Homo sapiens: one gene and its partner. The protein of the gene in region 1 interacts with the protein of each later gene in a pairwise test. Each region holds a gene or a part of one and is shown in the gene's direction. Other genes may lie near its edges.

Evidence for each region.
Region 2: the proteins of IHH (region 1) and RHOD interact in a two-hybrid assay, tested with the Homo sapiens proteins (one large-scale study listed by BioGRID and IntAct).

The regions. Positions count from the first base shown.
Region 1 is NC_000002.12:219,053,773-219,058,078, reverse strand, and holds the end of IHH (indian hedgehog protein preproprotein), read left to right. Parts: intron 1-384; coding exon 385-646; intron 647-2,213; coding exon 2,214-2,872; 3' UTR 2,873-3,655; downstream 3,656-4,306. UniProt on the Homo sapiens protein: Plays a role in embryonic morphogenesis; it is involved in the regulation of endochondral skeleton formation, and the development of retinal pigment epithelium (RPE), photoreceptors and periocular tissues.
Region 2 is NC_000011.10:67,059,847-67,063,654, forward strand, and holds part of RHOD (rho-related GTP-binding protein RhoD), read left to right. Parts: intron 1-3,808. UniProt on the Homo sapiens protein: Involved in endosome dynamics. May coordinate membrane transport with the function of the cytoskeleton. Involved in the internalization and trafficking of activated tyrosine kinase receptors such as PDGFRB.

The DNA.
Region 1 (4,306 bases):
CTCCTGCCTTGGAGGCACAGAGGGACCGGGCGCTGAAAGGTGTAGTCCTGTCTGTGGAGGGATGGATACCCGGAGCTGAAGACAGCACAGGAGAGAGGGGACCTCCACCTACCAGTGAAGGCGCCGCCAGGGCGCTTGCCTCCATGCCTCCTCCAGATTTGTGATACCGCCGTGCGGTCCAGATCCCCGGGGGCGGCTGTATGCTAGGGAGGGAGCACTTCAGGGCCCTCTGTTCCTAAGGGAGAGGGACAGCACCCTCCCGGGCTTCCAGCTCCCTTGGGTGTGGCGGGAGAGTTCTGGGCGAGGCTGCGCCTACACCTGCACCTCGGCCGGCTCCTCCGGCTGATTTCGCTCTGGTTGATTTCGCGCACATTCCTCTCCCAGCGCTGCAAGGACCGCCTGAACTCGCTGGCTATCTCGGTGATGAACCAGTGGCCCGGTGTGAAGCTGCGGGTGACCGAGGGCTGGGACGAGGACGGCCACCACTCAGAGGAGTCCCTGCATTATGAGGGCCGCGCGGTGGACATCACCACATCAGACCGCGACCGCAATAAGTATGGACTGCTGGCGCGCTTGGCAGTGGAGGCCGGCTTTGACTGGGTGTATTACGAGTCAAAGGCCCACGTGCATTGCTCCGTCAAGTCCGGTGAGCCGCCGCCGGGGGGCTGGGCCCGGGGCCGGGGCCGCAGGGCATGGGCAGGAGGAGTAGTGCCGAGAAGGTGAAGAGCCCGCCCGGGGATGGAGGCAGGGATCCGGGGGAAGAGGACATCAGCGGCGCTCTCCAAGGCTGCTCCTGACCGTGACTGCCTGCTCATCCCATGCCTGGCAGTGTCATGGTAGGAGCCTAGGGCGATAGGGCCCTGTCCCAGGGCTGCTGGGTGCTGACCTGGTGGCCCACAGTCCAGAGCCTGCCACAGGAGGTGCAAGACAGAGCAAGCTGGACAGATGGAGGAAGCCAGGCTGCCAGACAAGGCCTCCCCACCCCACCTGGCACAGAACAAGGCGGGTGGTGGGGCCAGGAGCCGGGGTATGCCCAGACACCTGCATGCCTGACCAGGAGCCCAGAGGCTCAGAACCCACCACCCAGCTGCAGGTCAGCCCTCCCTGGGGCGCAGGCGTCCCCAACCTCTCCCCCTGTGCCCTGAAGCTGGACATTTTGGGGCAAAGCCAGCCAGGAGAGCCAGACTAAACAAAGTGGACTCAATAAAGTGGATTTTCCCAGATTGGCCGCATTGTTGATCAGAATTGGCAGGCACTGGGGCCTCACCCCTCCCTCAAGTCTTGTCAGCACCCTGTCACCTACACTGAACCCAGCCATGGAGGCTCCAAATGGTTCCTGTGTGGCTCCCAGCCAAGCCCCACCTGGCTGCCGGCTCAGCCTTTCACACTGGCAGCGTGTAATAGTTGCACTCTCATAGACCCGCACACTGAGCCCAGGCCCACATTTTGATATTCCTGACCCTACCCTGACCCACAACCACACCCTGAACCTTCCACTCAATACTTCCCCTGCCAACTGTGTCTACTGCAAGGCCCATCCACCCTTCACTGCAAACATTGACCCACGACAACCACTTCCATTCATTACTCCTGACCCCCAAACACTGTTCTCCAGCTCACCTGCTGATGCCGCAGTGTTCTGTCCCTGCACAGGGACTCAGCATGTGAACTGAAGATGGTGACTGTGTCCTCGCCCCTGGCCTGCCCCTGACCCAAACATTCACTCCGAGGCTGCCCAGGAGTCTGCCTTTGCCCCACTGGGTGGGCTCCTCTCACATCCCTACATTCAAAGGTCCAGCTCTGTTACAGAACCTGGGGAGTCAGCCTGAGAGGGCAATTTTTGGGAAGTGTCTGAGCAAGGGGTGAGAAATAACAGAACATCTAGGCCTCGGAGGAGCTAAGCAACCTCCCCCTTCCATGAGGTAGCCCTTTCCTTCTCATCCACTGGGTCTTGGAGCCCCACTATGCTCCTTGGCAAGGTATTAGGCTGGGGAGGGGGGTCACAGAAGATCACATTGGAGTAAGGGGATGGGGGCAGTGAAGTATGGGTTCAAGCCTGCATAGGAAGTGGGGGGCAGGAGCTGGGATATGGTGACGGGGGCTCTCTGGGAGCAAGAGGAGCTCTGGCTGGCTGGGGTGGCCAAGGGAGGGTCGTTGTGACCAGGAGGCTGAGCTGCACAGCAGTAACACCTTCATGTCCCTTTCTCCCACAGAGCACTCGGCCGCAGCCAAGACGGGCGGCTGCTTCCCTGCCGGAGCCCAGGTACGCCTGGAGAGTGGGGCGCGTGTGGCCTTGTCAGCCGTGAGGCCGGGAGACCGTGTGCTGGCCATGGGGGAGGATGGGAGCCCCACCTTCAGCGATGTGCTCATTTTCCTGGACCGCGAGCCTCACAGGCTGAGAGCCTTCCAGGTCATCGAGACTCAGGACCCCCCACGCCGCCTGGCACTCACACCCGCTCACCTGCTCTTTACGGCTGACAATCACACGGAGCCGGCAGCCCGCTTCCGGGCCACATTTGCCAGCCACGTGCAGCCTGGCCAGTACGTGCTGGTGGCTGGGGTGCCAGGCCTGCAGCCTGCCCGCGTGGCAGCTGTCTCTACACACGTGGCCCTCGGGGCCTACGCCCCGCTCACAAAGCATGGGACACTGGTGGTGGAGGATGTGGTGGCATCCTGCTTCGCGGCCGTGGCTGACCACCACCTGGCTCAGTTGGCCTTCTGGCCCCTGAGACTCTTTCACAGCTTGGCATGGGGCAGCTGGACTCCGGGGGAGGGTGTGCATTGGTACCCCCAGCTGCTCTACCGCCTGGGGCGTCTCCTGCTAGAAGAGGGCAGCTTCCACCCACTGGGCATGTCCGGGGCAGGGAGCTGAAAGGACTCCACCGCTGCCCTCCTGGAACTGCTGTACTGGGTCCAGAAGCCTCTCAGCCAGGAGGGAGCTGGCCCTGGAAGGGACCTGAGCTGGGGGACACTGGCTCCTGCCATCTCCTCTGCCATGAAGATACACCATTGAGACTTGACTGGGCAACACCAGCGTCCCCCACCCCCGTCGTGGTGTAGTCATAGAGCTGCAAGCTGAGCTGGCGAGGGGATGGTTGTTGACCCCTCTCTCCTAGAGACCTTGAGGCTGGCACGGCGACTCCCAACTCAGCCTGCTCTCACTACGAGTTTTCATACTCTGCCTCCCCCATTGGGGAGGGCCCATTCCATCCATCTTAGGCCCCTTTGGGTGGGCTTGCGCCTCAGTTGATGCTGCTAAATTCCCTGGGAGCCAGCATGGATCTGGCTGGACCCGATGCTGTCCAGAACTGGGAAGGCCACAGGGGTGGGGCAGCCATCCCGGCCATTCTGAGGTATGACATTCCTCCCCGGCCACACTCCTCAAGACACATCCAGAGACTGTTGCTGTCTGTGGGCAGAGTTCTGTGTTCTGGCCAATGTGACCGTAGTGCCGGGGACTGGGGGAGGTGGGTTGGATGTGCTTGCCACCCCCCCGGCTAAGCTCCCCCTTCTGCTGAACCATGATCCCCACCCCCTCCGCCGGTCAGTCTCCCATACCTTATTTATTGGAGTGGAGGGGGAAGCCCATGGGAGAATTTTGGGGATGTTTTGGTCTTTTCTTCCTTTTGTAATAAAAATTATTTAAGTTGTTAGAGCCACAGAGTCCAGGATGCTCACAGATAGTTTGGAGCCCTGGAAGGTTGTGTCCAGGGTTTTCTCCCCTCCTCGGAGAGGCCTGGCTCACCTTCCTCCAAGGACAAAAACTCCAGGCCTCCCACCCTCACTGCAGGTCCATTCCCACCCAGTAGCTCTGCAAAGCCCCTACAGAGAGCTGTGCTCTGCACAGGGCAGGACCTTCCCACACTGACCTCACCATTTACCCCAAACAAGGATGGACCCGAGAGAGAACAGAGTTGACTAGTCCATGGTCACCTTACTCATCTATAACCATGCCCTTGTGCTCTCAGGGCCTGGGCTTCTGACTCTTCCCTGTTGGTAATGGACCACAGTGTGAAAAGATTCTGTAAAATTCACGTTGTCTTGTGGGCTATTCTGACTTCTCGGACAGGTCAGAGATCCCTAATCTAGCAGTTCTCAAATGTCAGGATCACCTGGGAAGCTTGTTTAAAGATGATTCCTGGCCCCACTTCCAGGATTCCACTTTTTTTTTTTTTTTTTTTTTTGAGACAGAGTCTTACTCTATTGGCCAGGCTGGAGTGCAGTAGCGCAATCTTGGCTCACTGCAATCTCTGCCTCCTGGGTTCACACCATTCTCCTGCCTCAGCCTCCTGAGTAGGTGGGACTA
Region 2 (3,808 bases), on another chromosome or scaffold:
AGCAGCCAGGAGGCTGGAGTCCCATCTCCCAGACTTCCTGCACACAGCAAAGGGCTGAGAGCAGCCTGAGGATTTGGAGGGACCTCAGTGACCCTCATCTGGCTGTGACCCAACCCTGGATTCAGGGCAGCAGGGGAGGGCAAGGTGGAGAGAGCTCCTAGGACAGGGGGAAGCCCCAGGCTGGGGTGCCAGCCTCTGCCCAGTCCTGGCTGGCATTTGTGGCTGCAACCATTCCCACAGGTTCAAAGCCTAGCAGCCCCCACACCAGCATGGGGATAGGAGGTGGCAGGGAGCACCCGGCCCTGCTGGCTAGAGCCCCCTGGGTCCTTCCTGGTTCGCACTTGGACTCCCATGGGTGTCCTAACCAGGGATGCCCCGACACTCCCTCTTGAGCCAGGTCCCCCATCTTGGTAATGATTCATTTTCTGTCTGTGAGCCCCTGGAGGGCAGACCTGAGCCTGAGTCATCTCCGTCCTGGTCCAGCACAGGCCCAGTCCTTCTTTTCTGGCTGAGGACGGCTTAACAGATAAAATTAGGTGCCATTGATCCCATGGACAGAGGGTGACCCTGCCTGGGGGTCAAAGAACAACACAACAAAAGGTACAGACAGAGTCTCTAGGATGACGTCCCGAGTGGGGGAAAGGGCTGTGACAGTTACAAGCCAGAGGGGAAACCCAGCCCCTTTCTGTCTCCGGGAACTGGAGTTGGTAACCTCAGGAAAGGCAGGTGGCTGAGGACAAGGCCTGGTCTCTGCAGCCACAAAGACCTGGCTCTGTCACTAGCCAGCTGTTCAGTGTGTCACCTTGAACAAGTCATTTCCTCTCTCTGGGCATCATCAGAAAGTGAAGGTTGTACTGACGTTCCGAGCTTGCAAGGATCGGAGATGGTGCCAGTACACAGCCACACACAGAAGATCCTTAGAGAATGGTGGGTGGTGGTGTCATTACCATGGGCATTTGCAAAGCACTGAAACATGTCTCCCAAGAGATTTCCAGCAGGCTGCCTTGCAGCTCAGATCAAGAAGGTGACTGAGTGGGTGGTCAAGCTGGGAGCTCAGATGCAAGGGCACCAGTGCCCTTCACAATGACAGGCCCCTACTCTAGGACAAAGGTCAGAAGCTGCGGAGGGGCTGGGTGTATTAGTCCATTTTCACATTGCTATAAAGAACTACCCGAGACTGGGTAATTTATAAAGAAAAGAGGTTTAATTGACTCACAGTTCTGCATGGCTGGGGAGGCCTCAGGAAACTTACAATCATTGTGGAAGGTGAAGTGGAAGCAAGGCACTTCTTATGTGGCAGCAGGAGAGAGAGAGAAGGGGGAAGCACCACACTTTTAAACCATCAGATCTCGTAAGAACTTCCTCACTATTGGCCAGGCGTGGTGGCTCACACCTGTAATCCCTGCTCTTTGGGAGGCCAAGGTGTGCAGATCACTTGAGGTCAGGAGGAGTCCAGCCTGGCCAACACTGTAAAACCCCATCTCTATTAAAAGTACAAAAATTAGGCTGGGTACGGTGGCTCACACCTGTAATCCCAGCACTTCGGGAGGCCGAGGCGGGTGGATCACCTGAGGTCGGAAGTTCGAGACCAGCCTGACCAACATGGAGAAACCCCATCTCTACTAAAAATACAAAATTAGCCGGGCGTGGTGGCACATGCCTGTAATCCCAGTTACTCAGGAGGCTGAGGCAGGAGAATCGCTTGAACCTGGGAGGCAGATGTTGTGGGGAGCTGAGATCGTGCCATTGCACTCCAACCTGGGCAACAAGAGCGAAACTCTGTCTCAAAAAAAAAAAAAAAAAATCAAACCCGGGAGGCGGACCTTGCAGTGAGCCGAGATCAGGCCACTGCACTCCAGCCTGTCCAGGAGGCGACAGAGCGAGACCCTCTCTAAAAAAAAAAAAAAAAATATATATATATATATATATGTGTGTGTGTGTGTGTATATATATATATGTGTGTGTATATATATATGTGTGTGTGTGTGTGTGTGTGTGTATATATATATTAGCCAGGCGTGGTGACACACCTGTAATCCCAGCTACTCAGGAGGCTGAGGCAGGAGAATCACTTGAACCCAGGAGGCAGAGGCTGCAGTGAGCAAGATTGCACTACTGCGCTCCAGCCTGACTCCGTCGAAAAAAAAAAATCTCCCTCACTATCACAAGAACAGCATGGGGGAAACCGCCTTCATGATTCAATCACCTCCCACCAGGTCCTTCCCTCGACACGTGGGGATTACAATTCGAGATGAGATTTGCTTGGGGACACAGCCAATCCATATCACTGGCGAAGGTGTCACCACCTGGAAGGATGGACGGGGGCTCGTGTGGACACTGCCCCTGGCCACCAGCTTCCCTGGTGGTGAGCATTTATGCTGGGGCCTCACCTGCCAGTCCATCCTCCCTCCCACATCATGGCATGACACTCTCCCCCTTTAACCAGTGAGGAGACTGTCCTAAGGACACATAGCAGGTGAGTGCTGGAGCCCGGTCTTAAGCCAGGCATATCTAAACCTAAAGCTAGTGCTCCTAGCTACCAGGTCACACTGCCCTGGCAAAGGCAAAGGGCCTGAGGGAGGGCACCCTGAGCAGGCAAGGGGGGATGGAGAGGTAGGTGAGGCCCTTGTCTGTTCCTGTTGGTTCCTTTTGGTAGAGGGAGTGATAGCATGTCTAGAGTCTGGGGTGGGGCCAGCCCTTACCTCAAGGCTATCCAGACTTCTCCATCTTCCTCAGCTGCCCACTCTGGGACCTGCCTTTCTCCCCACCCCACTCCCTGCAGCTTCCCTGGAGGACGGTGCTGACCCACTGCTCAGGTGCTGCCCCTCCCAGCTGGCCAGGGCCTGACTCAGAGGGCCAGCGGGCAGGCAGGCGTGAAATTCTCCTGAGTCACGGGCAGGTGTGGGCCGCACCCGGCATGGGAAGGGAAGAGGATAGGGGCCCCCCAGACTGTGGCCCCATCAACCAGCCCTGAGCAGGCAGTCAAGGCTTAGGGACCCAAGAGCGGGCGGCCCAGCATCCCCTCAGAGCAGAGGGCACAGGTTGTGGCAGAGTTTTGCAAACCCATCTTACAAAAGCTCCCTCTTCATTCCTGCATTTTCATCTGTGTACAAAACCTGGCCTGCTGCCCGTTCATCTCACCTTCATGGAAAGGCAGCAGTGAGCTCAGGCTGGGCAGGGCTGGAGTAAGGGGCCTCTGTCCTGGGTGACCTCCTCCCAAGCCCAGGCAGGACAAAGAAGAAAGGCCCAAACATGGGGCACTGGGCTGGGCGTGGTGGCTCACCTGTAATCCCAGCACTTTGGGAGGCCAAGGCAGGTGGATCGTGTGAGTCCAGGAGTTCAAGACCAGCCTGGGCAACATAGCAAGACCCCATCTCTGCAAAAAATACAAAAAATTACTTTGGGAGGCCAAGGTGGGTGGATTGCTTGAGTTCAGGAGTTCGAGACCAGCCTGGGCAACATGGCAAAACCCTGTCTCTACGAAAAAAGAAGAAAAATTAGCCAGGCATGGTGGCCCACACCTGTAATCCCAGCTACTCAGGAGGCTGAGGTAGGAGAATCACCTGAGCCTGGGAGACAGAGGTTGCAGTGAGTCAAGATCGCACCACTGCACTCAGGCCTGGGTGACAGAGTGAGACCCTATCTTTTTTTTTTTTTTTTTTAAAAAAAGGCCAGGCGTGGTGGCTCATGCCTGTAATCCCAGCACTTTGGGAGGCCGAGGCAGGTGGATCACTTGAGGTCGGGAGTTCAAGACCAGCCTGGCTAATATGGTGAAACCCCATCTCTACTAAAAGTACAAAAAATTAGC